Linked DNA regions of Homo sapiens: region 2 is linked to region 1. A link means that fine-mapping ties the variant in region 1 to the expression of a gene that starts in the linked region. Tissue or cell type: whole blood. Region 1 holds a variant in brackets; the other region holds the start of a gene. All regions are shown on one strand. Distances are between the middles of the regions. Region 1 holds the start of LOC124906154 (small nucleolar RNA U13). Region 2 holds the start of STK17B (serine/threonine kinase 17b).

Region 1 (8,919 bases):
AGTAACATGGGCTTTTATGATTGGTTTGATAGGATACCATGACAATCATATTGTAATTCGGTGGTTCTGGGCTGCAGTGGAAAGATTCAACAATGAACAACGACTAAGGTTGTTACAGGTGAGATGCCATTATTTAATCTTTTAAATGTATCAATATGATTATTGTTGGAAGTGTATGTTTTTAATAACTGCTAACTATTCTCCATAAACACATACCATGTGTATCTGGAAATATGAGATACACCATTTCCAGACTCCTGATTGCATGGTTATGTGACTCCATGGCTATTCAGAACTTCCCTAAGCCAACTTAAAGCATTTCATGAGAGTTTAGGGAAGTGTCAAGTCCAGTCCAAGAATCCCAGTAACAACATCTGCCTTCAGGACAGCTTGGACCCTTCAGCAAGAAGCACCCAGGGTACCCAAAGTGCAGGCCGGCATCCCTAGCAGCAGAAAGAAATGATTTTAAGTTCTTTAAAAAGGGATGCAGTTAGTTGACAGTCCTTTCTTCTCTTTCATCTAACTTTCCACAAATTTGAGAAAACAGTGACATTCAAGAACAGTGGGAAAACTAACTTGTGTTTTTTTTTTTTTTGCGTGTGGTGTTTATGGTCATCCAGGACAATTACTGATCAGTTGCAGCTATAGAAATACCAGACACAAGGAAGTCTCTGGATGCTCAGGCAGAGCCTTACAAGTACTCTTAGCTCCTTTGGATCTTAGCTCCTTTGGATTAAGGGTCTGGGCCTCAAAATTGCAGGCCCAGACATTCTCTTTTTTAAATTCACCCGACATTGATCAAGGACTGATGCTAAGTTGACTCGGGTTAATTGATCCCACTTTATTCATCTATAGTGGGAAATGTGCCCGGTTTAAGCTTCTGAGCTGGTCAGCTGCATCAGGTGCTTTATTTTCTACAAACCCTCCACATCCCCTTTCCCTTTATCATGCACAGTATTCTCTTTCTTAGTATTATCTTCTGGCTCTGTGTCAGAATTGTGTTGTGATTATTCCACACCTGTGAAGTTTTGTCTTCAGAACTTTCCTGCCTGCTCTTCCTCAGGAGCTCTGCCCGTGAATGACGTGATGCCTTTCCTGGCTGTTGGTCTCTGGCTTCACCTTCTCCTTCTGTTTTCTTGGGTTGACAGTTTGTTACAGGCACATCCAGCATTCCCTATGAAGGATTTGCTTCACTCCGAGGGAGTAACGGCCCAAGAAGATTCTGTGTGGAGAAATGGGGGAAAATCACTGCTCTTCCCAGGTAAAATATAAAATAACATTTCTTTACTGTCACAACATTTGGTGGAGACATTCATTTATGTATATATTGATTAATTACTGCTTTTATATTAAAAGTTTGGGAGAGCGGAAAAGCTCTTAGAATGAATTTCTCCCTGATAACCTTTCTAAACGAAGAGGAAAAAAGATCTCTCTGGTCACACTTAAAATACATACATCCATATCTTAAAATACAAAACACAACAAAAGCAAAGTATTTGTTAGCATCAGTAAAGCGACGTTGGTTATCATGCTTGTGGCTTATGATTGTGGCTCTAATCAGGTGTTTCCAGAAGCTTGAGTTTTAACTTTATAACTATTTAGAATCCCTTCAGTAAAAATTACCGTTGTAGTTTCTAAAGGATATTAGATAATGTGGATGTGCTCTAGATCTCTTTAGCCTGTCTCGTACATGTCTTAATTCCATGCTCTCTGCATTGTATTCTCATTCATAGTAAGATTACATATTTCCTTAGAATAGAAAAAAAATGCTTTGCTGTTGCTGCTAATAAAAGCAAAAGACTGATCCTTTTGCAATTTGTCAGTGTGATAATTGGGTGTTCATGCACATATGTGAGATGTGCCACCCTCAAGCCTTATTACAACGTCCACACATTACCCATCTGATATGGAAAATAGAAGCAAGGACTAGTACAAAAAGTGTTTGAGATTGAGTGGAGATAACTGGAGCTGGAGCAACAGAAAAGGAGCATATGAACAAAAGAGGAATGGAAGAAAATTTGTTTTAGAATTCCTTTATCCAATTAGTAGTAATACTGTAGCATTTTTGAGGTAAAAAGGAGCTGAAATTGCCTCTAACTTTACTAATAATACAACTATACTCTAGAGAGATTAAATGATATTAGGTACCCCAAGATGTTATCCTAAATTGAAGTATAGATGACTTTGAGAAACCTATTTTATTAGTGATATTAGGTGATATTATTGTTACTATATAAGGTGACATTAGGTACCCCAAGATGTCATCTGTTTCTTTAAGTACAAGCAACTGAGCAATCTGTTATCAAAGCTTTCTTCTTAGCAATTGAAAGATGCCAGTTCTTAAGAACTGTATTGTCAGCATCAACAGATGAGAAAAAGGGTGCTGAAAATACAAATGGAGAGAGCGATAAAGAATGACTGCTCAAGGGTTTGCCTGAGCCTCCTTGGCCACCCCACACGCATCACAGTCTGAACAGGCTGTGCATCCAGACACCTAAGTATTACCTGGCATATTTGATTTCCAAATCTGGGAATTCATTATTTGATTTCATTATTTAAAGAACTAGCTCATTTTATTTATGCTTGGATAATGAGTTTTCTCCCCTTCAACACATAAATCAACAGATTTAGCCTATCTGAATAAGGCTTTTTACTCTTCTGAGAAACTCTTTAAGAATTTGCATTGAAGAAGGAAAGGGTAGATTAATGGTCAGCTTTTTGTTGAAATCTATTTCTGTAAAGCCACTAAAGTATATGGAATAAAGTGCAACAGTAAGCAGATATGTCCACTGTTCATATTTAATCACTGTAATTTTCACCAAACCTGATGGGTAGAGACAAGTAATTTGATATAGACCTGGAGCTTTAGCTTCAGAGAGACCTAGGCTGAGTCCCACCTCTGTTACTTACCTGCAGCAGGGTCTTGGTGAAGTTGCATGATCCTTCTGAGCCTCTGTTTCCTCATCTATCTGGTGGATTTGAAATTCTGAGGATGATGTGAAATCATTCATGAAAAATACTTAATACTGTCTCTGGCCATGAGTAAGCATCCAGTCAGTGATCGCTGCCATTGTGATTTCTGTCACCATCATCTGTAATACATATCAGGCAGGATATTTGCATATTGGAAAGAGGGCAGGGGTAGGAGTTAAAAGACCTAGCTTCTAGTCCCACCTCTGCCACCAGCTAACTCTGGGACCTTAGAGAACACTTCATCTTTGAGCCTTGATTTTCTCATTTGTAACAGGCCTGGAGGAGGTGGTATATTAGGTTGGGTTGAGCAAGAAGTAACACCGAAGGGTTGCTGAAGAATCTTGAGGGTCAGGCTGGATTTGCATTTCTGCTTCCCCCTGGAGCTCCAGGAAGTTCATGTGCTAACTCATTGTAAATGGTGGT[A/G]TTCTTCATTATTGTAGCATACACACAGTTGGGTAACAGGCACTGTCCTTTCTCCCTGTCTTCACTATGACCTAAGTTTGCTTCTACATTCCTAGTTTTACCCAGATTATAAAACAGCACAAATAAAGATGGTCTTAGGCACATTGAGCAAGCAGCCTCTTTTCATACCCTCTCCGTAACAAGCCCCATCTTTTGGGGTCTGATGAGAAGAAAGAGTTACTTGGCTTTTCTGCTTCAGAGTTGCAGTCACCTTATGTAACCCAGGTAACACGCAGGAGCACAGATCTAAGCCCTATGACACACTAGTTACATCATCCTAAGCAAAACCCTAGATCCATCCCTCTAAGGTAGGAGTAACAATGTTCAGAGTATTTTTGACAATTGTAAGATAATGTATATGAAAGGCTTAGGAACACTGTGTTTACTTTGTTCTTTTTTAACTTTTTATCCTGACTTTTGTAAGCCACTGTACTACTTTAACTATTAACATTGGCTCCACAAAGAATAAAAGTACATTCGGAGGGAAAAAATTAAAAGAACTTAATTGCATGACAGTATAGTTATATGAGAAGCAACTTCTTCATTGACAACATTGTCATCACCCTTAATGAAATGTGGGGCATTACTTAGGTGTAAAAAAAGATCTGTAAAATTGGTTCTGGCCTAAAGAGATTCTTTTATATTATCAAGTCCATTTCTCCTACCATCAGAACAGATACACTGAAGCCATTTTTCTGCTATTTTTTGATAGGCGTTAAGTTGCACAATGGAAGAGCTGGTCTGTCTCAAGCTAGTTGGCCCCAGTGTATTTCTTTTTCCTATGAGTGAAATGATGTTTAACATTTAAAATGTGACATGGTACAAAAAAATAACAGATGCTGGTAAGGTTGCAGAGAAAAGGGAATGCTTATACACTATTGGTGGGAGTATAAATTAGTTCAACCATTGTGGAAGACAGTGTGGCAACTCCTCAAAGATCTAAAAACAGAAATACCATTCAACCCAGCAATCTCACTACTGGGTATATACCCAAGAGAATATAAATCATTCAGTTATAAGACACATGCATGTGTATCTTCATTGCAGCTCTGTTCACAATAGCAAAGACACAGAATCAACCTAAATGCCCATCAATGGTAGACTGGATAAAGAAAATATGGTACATATATACCATGGAATACTATGCAGCCATAAAAAAGAATGAGATCATGTTCTTTGTAGGAACCTGGATGGAGCTGGAGGCCATTATCCTTAGCAAACTAACACAGGAACAGAAAACCAAATACTACATCTTCTCACAAGCGGGAGCTAAATGATGAGAACACAAGGACACATAGAGGGGAATAACACTCACTGGGGCCTAATGGAGGGTGGAGGGTCAGAGGAGGGAAAGGATCAGGAAAAATAACTAATGGGTACTAGGCTTAATACCTGAGTGACAAAATAATCTGTAAAACAAACCCCCAGTGACACAGGTTTACCTCTATAACAAACTTGCACAAGTACCCCTGAACTTAAAATTAAAAAAAAAATTACATTGCACACATGGGAGAAAAATGGATAGATGTCCTTCTTACTTAAAAAATGAATCCTGGCTGGGCATGGTGGCTCACACCTGTAATCCCAGCACTTTGGGAGGCCAAGGCGGACGGATTGCCTGAGGTCAGGAGTTTGAGACCAGCCTGGCTAACATGGTGAAACCCTGTCTCTACTAAAAATACAAAAATTACCTGGGCGTGGTGGCATACGCCTATAGTCCCAGCTACTCGGGAGGCAGGAGAATCGCTTGAACCCAGGAGGCAGAGGTTGCAGTGAGCCGAGATGGCAATGCTGCACTCCAGCCTGGGCGACAGAGCAAGACTCTGTCTCAAAAAGAAAAAAAAAGAATCCTCTAAGAAGTCTGGCATGGTCTTGTGTCGGGCATGGGAGTTTCTGCCCTGGAGGGTTGGAGGGGCTGTAAAGGATGAGGGCAGTCCTGGCAACCGGAGCAATGAGGGAGAGAATCTTAGTCTTTCTAGACAAGGATGATGGAGGGCCTTTCAATTTTCAAGCAGGCAAATGTGAGTCTCATTCTTTTCTCAGATTTCCTAGTCTCACTTTGCGGTAGCAGTGGATAGCGCTGCTCACAGTATGAGTCAAGGAGTATATAAAAGTATATATGGTTGTCTCTGCAGCCAGTGCAAGTTGAATCCATGGCTCTTTTTTCCTCTTGTGGTTATGAAGTGACTAGAGACCCAGATGATAAATAAGGATGTAGACAGAAGGGTGTCTCCATGGAGACCTACAGCCTGAGCACATGACTGCACTTCCTCTGCTTCGCGGTCGGTGGTTAGCTCTGTATTTTGCATTTCTGTGGAAGACTTCATACCCCTGGTGCTCTGATGGACTTTATGAAAAGAGAGTACATTCACTTTGTGGCAATTGCTCTCAAACAGTCCAAAAAATGCGCTGCTAAGATGCCAGCCTGAAAACTGCAGAGCAGTCCTGTCTCCCACCATGGTGTGAGTTTCTGTGTTCATCCCCCAGGTTCTTGCCAAGTTGGGTGATGGGACGGAGGACCTGAGAGCTGCAATCGTCATGGGGGTGTGTTGGTTATTGCCAAAGGGAAAAGCGTTAATTTTTGAAAATGGCTGTGTCTGGAGATTATTATGAATGAAATGCTAACTGAAATTAAGAAATAAATTGTAAGAGTTAATTATGAAATAGATGTCTTATGGAGACAGTTAATCTAATGGAATAGAACTTTAAAAGATAAAATTATTTTTTAAAAACATAACAACTTTTTGTTTTTAAAATTCTGCTTTTTGGCAGAGTGCAGTGGCTCACACCTGAAATCCCAGCACTTTGGGAGTCCAAGGCAGGCAGATCACTTGAGGTCAGGAGTTTGAGACCACCCTGGCCAATATGGTGAAACCCCCATCTCTACTTAAAAAAAAAAAAATACAAAAATTAGCCAGGCATGGTGGTGTGCACCTGTAATCCCAGCTACTCGGGAGGCTGAGGCAGAAGAATCACTTGAACCCAGGAGGTGGAGGTTGCAGTGAGCCAAGATCATGCCACTGCACTCCAGCCTGGGTGACAGAGTGAGACTCCATCTCAAAAGAAAAAAAAATCTGCTTTTTATTCTAATTTATAAAAAGAAAATTTTACAAAAAATTGCTAAGAAATATATGTATATATTAAATATATATTAAAATACCTACATATGTATCAATCCAATGTCCACCCAATGTCCACTACTAGCTGGTCATGGTGGTGCATGCTTGGAGTCCCAGGTACTTGGGAGGCTAAGGCTTGAGCATGGGAGTTTGAGTCAAACCTGAGCAACATAGAGAGATACCATTTCTGAAGGAAAAAAAAGTCAATTACTAAGATAAGCTCTGTTAACATGTTAGAGTATGTGATTTCACTCATTTCTTCAGGTACACACAGGCACACAGACACACACATACACACACACACACATTTTAAAACAACATTCCGTTTATCACATGGAACATCTTTCCATGTCATTAAATATTGCTCTGTAATGTTATCAATAATTCAGTTTTCCCTCCTCCATTATAGGGAGCATTGTCTACTGTCAAAGTGAATTATCAGCCAGTATACCGGAAAATAACCAAGTCCTGAAATACAATGTCACTTTCCTCAATTAAAAGAAAAACCAGGCTGGGCACAGTGGCTCACGCCTGTAATCCCAGCACTTTGGGAGGCCAAGGTGGGCAGATCACGAGGTCAGGAGATGGAGACCATCCTGGCTAACATGGTGAAACCCCGTCTCTACTAAAAATACAAAAAGTTGGCCGGGCGTGGTGGTGGGCGCCTGTAGCCCCATCTACTCGGGAGGCAGAGGCAGGAGAATGGCGGGAGCCCGGGAGGCGGAGCTTGCAGTGAGCCGAGATCGCACCACTGCGCTCCAGCCTGGGCGACAGAGCCAGACTCCGTCTCAAAAAAAAAAAAAAAAGAAAGAAAGAAAGAAAAACCATCAGAACAAGAGATGAGTACTAGAAGGACCCTTTGGGGCCATCTCCTTTCTATATTTGCCCTGAGGTGTCCCTCGTTGGTCTTCCTAATTCCCTACCGCCTGCTGATGAGCTGATGTGGCTTTTCGTGTGGGAGAGAATTGACAGGAGATTCTCATACAGTGGTCTGCTCTGTAGTTGAACCTCAGGTCCAAGACTCTCTTCAACTCCTTTCCCCTCTGCCCTCTCACTCAGTTCTATATAACTGTATTTTAAATTTTCACTTTATTCTGCCATTGAATCTGCATGTACTAACAAAAACATGCCAGAGTTAACCCATCACATCACCATATTAAAGATTCTTAAATGTCATATACCTTTTGGATTGGTCTTTACTTTGGGAGGTGGGTAAATTTATCATAAAAACAGATTGTATTAAAAAAAGGGACTCTTCTGTAATTAATGTAAAACGTCAAGCTATTGAAAGAATTTGTGACTTTAATGGAATGAGATAATCATTCCACTTGCATTCCATCAGCATTGTTGCTGCTGACAACAGAGGACAGGATAGTCCAAGTCAAATCTACTAAAGGTCCTTGAGAGCTATTTCACAAGTCAGATTTTAAAGTGTCTATTTGTGAGTGACAGACATTGCAACAGTTAAAGAATGCTTACCCACTTTTCCTTGGCCTCAAGAGCAAAAACCAGTTTGGGCTCATTTCTTTCCACCAGCCTAGTCCATGACACCATCCCCCCTCACCTGGACTACTGCAGTAGACTGCTGGCTAAATCCCCTGCTTCTCCTGCATCCCACCATTCATTCATTCTGCACTCAACAACCACTGGGATCTGCAAACATCTCAAGGTCACCTCCCTCCCTTGCCTACACCCTCTGGTGGCTTAGAATAAAATCCAGACTCCTTCCCAAGGACTTCCTGTGGGGCCCTGGTCTGCCTCCTCCTGCAACCTCAACATGTACCCTCTCCCCCAACCCATGACACCTACCAGCCTCCTTCTGTGTATTCCTCAAATATGCCAAACTCAATTATGCTTCAAGGCTCAGGGAATTGCTGCCTATAACACTTATCTGCTGGTCCTTCATGCCTGGCTCTTTCTTGTCCCCAAGACTCGGGTTAGAGGTGATCTCCTGAGAAAGGCCCACCAGGCTTCTGTCCTTAGTGCACCTGTCACTCTTTCACCCCTTACTTCCTTCACTAGGCTTGACCCAATTCAGTCATCATGTTCAGTTATTGGTTTACTTGTTGATTATCTGTCTCCTCCTCTGGAGTATAATCCTGTGAGAACAAGTACCTTATCTGAATTAAACATGGCTTTGCTCCTAGCAGTGAGCCCAGTGCTTAGCACATGTACTCCATAAATATTGTTTTTAGTGAATTTGAAATCTTTAGGGATAACTTTGGACCACTCCAGACAAGAAATTCCAAAATCATAATCCAGACTTTCATATCTCTGTATCCATATCTGAAAAGTTGGGATAGAAATTAGCATTTATATTACAAAGTTGTTTTGAAGATTAAATGAGATAACATGCAAAGTGCTT
Region 2 (8,842 bases), 40 kb after region 1:
CAAAGTGAAAAAGGAAGAGATTTATTAGGGAGAGCTAGTAGGCGTTATCTACTCAAATCAAATAGACAGCACCCTATATTTATACCCTGTATTTATTTCTTTGCACCACTTGATATCTACTTCCTTTAAACACTAGTGACTAATTTCTTTATCTCACACGGCCCCCTGGACTCCACCATTTGTTGACCCTTAGAGCTTCATTCCGAACTTGGGTGTCTCCACCAGATAGATACTGAAAGGAAAAGCAGTCACCTCCCTCTCCCCTTTCCTTTCCAATGACATTTTTCTCCCAATGATCCCTACTAGCATCAACCATAAGATGTGAGGAAAATCGAAAGTATCTTATAAAGCCATTTGACAAATATTTATATAGAACCCACAATGTCTTGAGCATCTTGCTAGTCACAGGGCGCAGTAGTGCACATGGGGAGCTGGCAAAGCACTGGTAAATAATAATAGCTTGTAGGAACAGAACCAAGGGTTTATTCTTGTTAGGCACTGTTCTTAGTATGCATTATCCCATTTCAATCTCATGGAGGTAGCTATTATTATTATCCCCATTTCACAGATGAGAAAACTGAGGATCGCCCAAAATCACACAACAAGGAATGGGCAGAACTGGGACTTGAAGGCAGGGCTGCCTGATGTCACACACTTAACCACACATATATCTTCTCTTTCTCTCTCACAGCTTCTCACGAGGTAGAACTTTAGAGCCTGGTGTGTTTGTGGCTGGAGCATAGCAGCTCTTCTACAACTTTACTGTAGTTTCTACTGAATATTTTGGTTTGCAAATATAAAGGATTCTCTGAAGCACAACCTTAAATAACGTGTGGTAGACACCTGGGAGAGGAAAACTGCAGACAGAAAAATGTGGCCGGATGCTCTGTGGGCGGGCGGCAGCGATGTTCGGCCAGGTGGCTCCAAGGAGAGGAAGCAGTGATGCATTGAGGTAAGAGAGCTGACAGATGAAACCACATGGACCCTAAGACAGAGTGGAAGGAGGGTGCCTTAAATATTGTAGGGTGTGCTCTTATCAGGTTATGAGAATGCAGTTGGGATACAGGTTTGCTTTCTCTTGCCTGTATCATCGGAGTGATGATTCAGATAAATTTAAAAATTACTTTATTCTGAAGTATGTCTGATGTGAAGAGGCTTAAATAATATCTTAGGATTAAGAGTCAGGAGACCTAAATTATTGTTCAGATATGTACCACCGAATTTAGGTGTGTGATCTTTTGCAAGTCCCTCAACTTCTCTCACTGTAGGTTTCTTCCCTTCTAAAACAAGGGAGTTGGGTTACTGAACTGCAAGAATTTTTCTAGCTCCAGACTGCTCTGATTGTCTCTAGCACTGGAAATTTAGACACAATTAGAAGGCACGTTTCTAGCCCTTCAGACCTACACTGCCTAACTTAGTAGCCACATGTGGCCATGAAACACTTGGGATGTGGCTAACATGACAAAATTTTCTATTTTATTTCATTGTCATTAAATTTATATTAAGAAACTGATACTGTATTTAGTTATTGAAAAACTTTATTTATTTTTGAGACAGAGTCTCGCTTTGTCGCCCAAGCTGGAGTGCAGTGGTACACAATCTCGGCTAACTGCAACCTCTGCCTCCTGCGTTCAAGTGATTCTCCTGCCTCAACCTACTGAGTTGCTGGGATCACAGGAACCTGCCACCATGCCTGGCTAATTTTTGTATTTTTAGTAGAGACGGGGTTTCACCATGTTGGCCAGGCTGGTCTTGAACTCCTGATCTCAAATCATCTGCCCGCCTTGGCCTCCCAAAGTGCTAGGATTACAGATATGAGCCACCACACCTGGCGTGAAAAACTTTAGTTTGTTCAAAACAACTTAGGAATGTGAATCTGCTTTTTGCAACAGTAAATTTTGTGAAATCTAAATACAGATCAAGTGTTTCCGATGAAAATTTGGCATCTGAATTGGGACATGCTGTAAGTATAAAATACTAGATTTAAGACAATATTAAAAAAGGAAGTAAAATGTCTCAATAATTTTTGTTGATTACATGTTGAAATGACAATGTTTTAGAAATATTGGGTTAAATAAAATAAATTGTTAAAATTAATTTTATCTGTGTTTACTTTTTAAAATATGACTAGTAGAACATTTGCCAATGTGCGTGGCATTTCTTTTGGACAGCTTTTACAGGACAGGTTATACTCTATAAACTGCAGTGAGTGGTTGGATTGGCATATTGGCCCTAGTTGATCATGGATGTTTTGGAGAGGAAAGCTGTGTCACCCTTTAAGGAAGACACTTGTACCAGTCTGAGTTATTACTCTCATCAGACAAAACTAGCCCCAATTAGCTTTGCTAATAGTGTTTCAAGAGAGTCAGGGGATGTGAGGTCTCTTAGAGTCTCTCTGGTTCTCAGTGCTTTCAAAATTGCAATGTGCTGTAGGCACCATGAGTAAATGCACTGCGACATCTCCATCTGAGTACACTCACTATTCCTACCTCCAGAGAGGGGATCTGTTTGGAGGAGCCTGTCTCCATTCAGTGAGCACCCCTGTTGGGTGGGGGGTTGAGCCACGCCCCTTCAGAGGCTGTTGGCCTTGCCTGCGTCTGGCTACCTTTAGCCTAGCCACAGGTTTCTGGTATATTCAGTTCTAGACAGGTAGTAGAGCTTGTTTTGCCTTTTCCACATGAATTCTTCAGAAGGAGGGTGTGTCAGTGGCAAGAGTTTTGAGTTTGAGGCCTTCTGCTCTGTGCAAAACCCTCCTTTTCTGCATCTACAGGGAGTAAACATGGAATCGGTGAGAATCACTTTCCTTGATCATTATGTGGTCAGTATGCGGTGACTGACTTGATGTGACTGGGGAAGGTCCCTTCCCTGGACAGAATATGGTGAGTGTCGTGCCATTACCGGAGAGGATCACCTTCCCTGGCCACATGTGGTAAGCAGTGACTGGGAACGATCATCGCTCCCAGTCAGTGTGTGATTACTAACCTGGAGTGATCCAGGAGGACCACTGTATTTGTTTGCTTGGACTGCCATAACAAATACCACAGAGCGGACAGCTTAAACAACAGACAGTTCTGGAGGCTAGAGGCTGTTGATCAAGATATCAGCAGGTCTTGTTTCTTCTGAAACCTCTCTGCTTGCTTTGCAAATGGCCACCTTCTTGTTATGTCCTCACAGGGTGGTCCCTTAGTCAGTGTTGTATGTGTCCTAATTTCTTCTTATCAGGACACCAGTCATCTTGGATCAGGGGCCACTCATATTATCTCATTTTACCTTAATTACCTCTTTAAAGGCCCTATCTCCACATACGGTCATACTCTGAGTTCCTGAGGGTTAGAATTTCAACGTATGAACTGGAAAAGAACACAACTGAGCCCATAACAACCGCCATCCCTGGTCGGAATGTGTCATTCAAGGATGGTCAACTTAATGAACTGTGTGGTCAGAAGCAATGACCACAGAATGACCATCAGGTCACCTGGAGATTTCCTACTCAAGGGAATGAGAGCAGGAACATATATCTTTGACACGGTGATGAATGAGTTTAGGTAAATGAGGTGGATGGAGGAATGTATTGACTTCTGAATTTTCCTGCAAGGCCACAGATGTACTGCCTCCTCCTCAGCACCAGGAATTCCTTGTTACTTGAACCACAGTGCCTGAGACCAAGTAAGTGTAGTTGAATGTCCTTGGGATAGTGTGGTAAGTCCTAGTTAACAAATCTGACATCAGGCACAAGGGTTAACAATCTATTTAGGGTCATAAAAGAAACACAAACTATCAGCCCTGCACCAAAGAACATAAGGCAGAGGTGATCAGGCTGGGAACAGAAAGTAGGAATCAGCAGAGTTCTGATTCCTGAAGAGGGTAACCTTCTTAAAGTCAGAAACTGATGAACAGGTATGGATGAGGAGGATGGTGATAAGCTGGAGCTAAGGCAGAAGCAGGAAAATGCAAGACATGACAATATCCCTAGGAGGCTGGCTGGTTACAGCAGAGGTATTGTGACCAAGAGGACTGGCTTACAGTGGTGCCAGAGAGAGAAAAGTCTGTGTCTAGGTGTGAAGTGATCTGGGACTGGATTAGTGACGGGGAGTATGGGGTGAGTGTGAGAAGATTGCTAAAAGCTGGCAATTGATGAAATGTTGAAATTAAGGAGGTCCAAAGTTAAACACACAACCCCAAAACCACCATAATGATGTAATCCTGTGACCCCCAAGAGGTTACTAGTTTTGGTACTGGTGCTGAGACCTCTGGAATGCAACACCTATGCTCATGAAAGAAAAGATGGGAACAGTCTCATTGCTTACGGATTCTTATACCCCAGAAAAGTTAATTCCAGTGTGTGGCATTTTATTTTCATCCTAACTTTAGGCTTCTCTAGTCAGCCCAATTGTTAGCAACAAGAAATTAGATAGATGGAAGCAATATTCTCCATTTGACAAGGTTTAGGGGCAAGACATTATTAACCTGGGAGGAGGAGTTAACCTAAGTAACAACAAACAGACTTCATAAAAGGGCTGTGATGCATTCTATACCTTTATCTTGGGGAAAATGCAGTAGGAAAGGGAAACAGCTAGCTTCACAGGAATTTGCTTGGCTTACTGGGATAGAACAAGAAAACCTGTCCTTTATATGCTAACTGAACATTAAGTCTTTTGAAAGCAAGAGGACGACTCCACTCCCAGTATCCTTTCCCACGGAAGGGTTTTCTGCAATTATCGTAAATGTCCTCTGAAAGCAATCCTAGATTACATAACTAATCCCATATATGTATGAGTATGTGTGTATCCTATACATATAAACTAGGATTATATATCTATGTAAAACATTTGTGTCTTGCACAGAACTTTGAAAATTTCCACTGTCTTCAAAGGATAACAGATCTTGAGTAGGTTGCTGAGGGCTTTCATCTTTTTCCTTAGCACTATAAATGCAAAATCGGCTATTCAGCCTATTGGGACCCTCCCTACACTGCCTTCAGTCAGTGCCTCAGAAGGGACACCATTCGCGACAGCGGACGTTAGCAGTGGGGTCTAGGTTCCATAAATCCCCAACTGATGTTGACACTCCGAGGAACCTCTGCCAAGTTGTAGCAAACTGGGTTCTCCACTTACAGGGTACGTTCCGGTCCTAAGGAAGACTCTCAAGAAGAGTCAGAAAATAGGTCTTTGGTAGGCACTGAAGTTTGGTAACTAGTCGCAGGCAGCTGGGACGAATTTTGCGGCTTCCTTCTCCCCGGTCTCCGGATATTCACACCTCTCGAACTGACCTCTCTGAAGGTGGGAAGGAGTACACAGAGCAGTAGTTCCAGCCCCGCGCGCCCCCTCTGCAGCGCCGCCCCCTCCGCCCCTCCCTCGCGGCAGCCCGAGTGCGCCCCACCTGCGCCGCCACGCCGCCGCGCCTCCCCGCCCCGCCTCGGGCCAGCCAGGCGCCGCACCCTCTCACCGCCGGGCCCCGCCCCGCACACGCGCCCCCGGCCGGTGCCCCGCCCCTCCCGTCACGTGACAGACCCACCCTCCGCACCCGTTCCGATTGGCTCTCCCGACCTAGGGGGAGGGATCTGGCGAACGGCGATGCCCCAGACGCGGCTGCAGTTTTCAAACCGCGACTGCAAGCTTCGGTAGTCCTCTCCGCTGCTGTCGCCAGGAGTCACTTCACGAGAAGCCAGGTCACAACCGTCGGCCCTTGTCTGGAAAAGTAAAAGTGGATCCTGCCACGTTCGGAGCTCCCTGGCGCCTCGCCCGGCTGGAGCTAGAGAACTCGTCCTGTGGCGGCCCCCGGCGTGGGGCGGGACAGCGGCCCCCTGGAGGGGGCAGTCCCGGGAGAACCTGCGGCGGCCGGAGCGGTTAGTGTCCTGCGGGATTGGCGGGTTGGCTCGGGGCTGCGATGGAACCAGCCGCCTCGGTACAGAGACCTCATACGTGAGGAAGGAGGACCCGAGGAGGGTTTAGGCGGTACGGTCCGGCTGAGAGGGGCTTGGACTCCGCCGCCCCTGAGGTGGCTGATTGCTGCTGGCGCCTCTCCGCTTTGCGGCTGGAGTCCGGGTTCCCTGGGGCTCCGCGCGGGGGGCGGCCGGCGGTCCTCCCACCACCCTCCTCAGCCCGGGGCGCGTGTCTGTGTCTGTGCGTGTCCGTGTGTCCCCGTGCGCCCTCCACCCGGCCGGCCCCGGCTCTCCCCAGGTCGCGCCAGGCAGGGCCCCCTTCGCGGCGGGCCCGCGCGGGTCCCTTCCACAGCAAGGCCACGCGGTCCCCCTAGCCTCTCCCGAGTCCCAGCTGCGGCGTGGGCGCGTTCCCATCGGGACTCGTGGACGCGTCCTGCTCCCAGCTGCCTTTCGTCTAGAGAAAGTTCGTGTTCATCTTGTGGGACGTTTTCAGTTACTGCTTGGGAACAGTGTTTTAAAACCAGCGAGAGATCAAGACGGGCTACAGCTGTTTCCGTGATTTTCAGCGATCTGATTTTTGCTTTGATGCCTTGTGACCCACTTAGTGTGCACGACTCATCCTCAAACTATACCACTACTGGATGCCAACGATTTTTGACATTTACCCAGGCTCTTTGTTTTATTGTAGGGAAAAGCGTTTCATTTGAATTTCCTCCGAGGGAGAAGTAGAGACAAAGTTGAAAGAGGCTTTATAGCAGCTGGTAGCTGGCATTAGTTTCTGTCTGGACTAGAGGCACTCTGACATCAATTTGGAAATTGGAATTAAGAAAATACGTTTTTAAAATCGTAATACTTATCAGATTTCACTAATATTTAAACACATGAGGACTGTGTATCACATTCACCGATTGTTTTGTCGACGTAATGTTTACATCTGTGGTGCTAATGATAAGCAGAACCTTGCCAGGGACGTTTGACGTGGTGTGGCCACTTTACGTTTTCAAGTCTATGAGAATGTCTGCGCGGAGACAGCATAGCTCTGTAGAAATGAGTGGCAGCGTATGTAACCTGGCATTTTGAACCCAGGAGCACAATTTTATTAAAGGAAAATAAACCTACTTTCTCATTGATAACACTGTTTTTTAGTTTTATGGTGAACTGTTCGGAAGTAATTTTCAACAAGTGCTTATTTTATAAATATTAGACCGTGTACCCCTAGGATTGTGTATTTTTTAAGAAAACTGGTCCATAGAAGCGGTGCAAAAGTTTTAAACTCATCTGCCTCGGATCCTCCTCCTCTGAGCAGATGCTCAATTAAACTTTTTCTAGTATCTTAATAATTGGAGGTATTAATAGATGTTTTATTTTTGAGATACATATTGTACATTTTAGATCTTTTTTTTTTTCTAAAGTAGGGATCCAAAATTGAGGTGAAATATATTTGCTTACATGGCAAGACTTTTTAAAAGTAGAATTTCTGTAATTGAAGACCATCCTTTTTTGTGTGTGAATAGAATGGTTGCGGTTTCTCTTGGGATCATTGATTAGTGAATTACGATTTGGTTAAGATAGAATGCGTTTTTAGGAAGTTGGAGGTTTGACTAATCGCTGTGTTAGCATATGAGTAACAAATTTGAAGAAGATACAAGCATTTTTATGGCTGACGTTTCTAATCAGATAATTTTATTTTTAAGCTTGCTCTGTTTTACTTTTGTTAAGTGAACATTTTAACATGTTTTAAAGCTCTTTGATAATTATAAGGGAGAATTTCCTTATGAAAATATTTTTGCTTTAATTTTAGAGACACAAGAAGTCAAGGAATTCAGTTAATAACACTTTCACTTAATCGTTAAATTGCCTTAAAATTGCATGCATAGTATATTGTAATTCACATTTTCTGTATGTAAGATTGGCAGTTAAGAATAGTATTCTGGCCGGGCGCAGTGGCTCAAGCCTGTAATCCCAGCACTTTGGGAGGCCGAGGCGGGCGGATCATAAGGTCAGGCGTTCGAGACCAATATGGTGAAACCCCGTGTCTACTAAAAATACAAAAATTAGCCGGGCATTGTGGCGCGCGCCTGTAGTCCCAGCTACTCGGGAGGCTGAGGCAGAAGAGTTGCTTGACCCGGAAGGCCGAGGTTGCAGTGAGCCGAGATCACGCCACTGCACTCCAGCCTGGGCAACAGAGGGAGACTCCGTCTCAAAAAAAAAAAAAAAAAAAAAAAAAATAGTATTCCTAGGCTTACTACTTTTAAAGGATACTGATTGATTCTTCTTTTCATAAAGAAATCTTCTGCACTGTATGGGTATTTGTTTTGTCAGAAACATTAGCAGTCATTTATCTACTACCTTTCCACTTAGGAAAACTTCAAATGTCAGTTGCTTTAGTTTTTCATAATATTGATGACAAAATTCAGTGATTTTATGTTTAAGTACTGTAGTTTGTATTCTATGCTGGGCTGTTATCAAAGGCTATTTCTTTGAATATTTCAGTTAAGAAATGTTCTTATAAAGTTACAAGCATGTATTTTTATTTAAATATGTTGTAATGTTGCAATTTTCAGGGCATACTTTATTAAGTTTTTTATTATCCTTTTTCCAGAACATTTAACCTCAAACTTCAGTGCCATTTAAAACATATATATTAGTTTCTTTTAATATTTATATGCATTGTATTTTGGTTCATCCCTGACCCTTTGCAATTACTCCAAAAGAGGGTGTAGTGATACTGTAAGCATTGAAAAATTTTAACAGTGAGATGGTAATTTCCTCTTTAATCCTTAAAGGCAGATTCCATTTTGCATTGTAATAGTTACTGAATAAATAGTACTTAAGCGGTGCTATTAAGTAAACAATATTTTACAACAGAAACCCAATTTTCCGTCTTGTGAGTGACAAGCACCATGCATTTGTTGCCCACCCCGGAATCCCCCACTCTATTTCCGTTTTTCAACCTTTTAT

Evidence for each region. PIP is the estimated chance that this variant, and not a neighbour inherited with it, causes the effect.
Region 2: it holds the start of STK17B, and the variant in region 1 is fine-mapped to the expression of STK17B in whole blood (TOPMed, PIP above 0.99).

What each region holds. Positions count from the first base shown.
Region 1 is chr2:196,208,207-196,217,125 of GRCh38, reverse strand. HECW2 (HECT, C2 and WW domain containing E3 ubiquitin protein ligase 2) reads left to right here. Exons shown (of 29, transcript NM_001348768.2): 27 at 33-118; 28 at 1,149-1,261. LOC124906154 (small nucleolar RNA U13) reads left to right here and starts at 1,804; the gene lies at 1,804-1,907. RefSeq lists an enhancer at 5,351-5,400. The variant A/G (reference allele first, on the strand shown) is at 3,397.
Region 2 is chr2:196,168,336-196,177,177 of GRCh38, reverse strand. STK17B (serine/threonine kinase 17b) reads left to right here and starts at 5,600. Exons shown (of 8, transcript NM_004226.4): 1 at 5,600-5,845. It overlaps LOC101927454 (a long non-coding RNA gene), which reads right to left and starts at 5,639. Exons shown (of 2, transcript XR_923737.2): 1 at 5,547-5,639; 2 at 4,330-5,273. RefSeq lists an enhancer at 618-877 and silencers at 5,305-5,534, 6,055-6,274.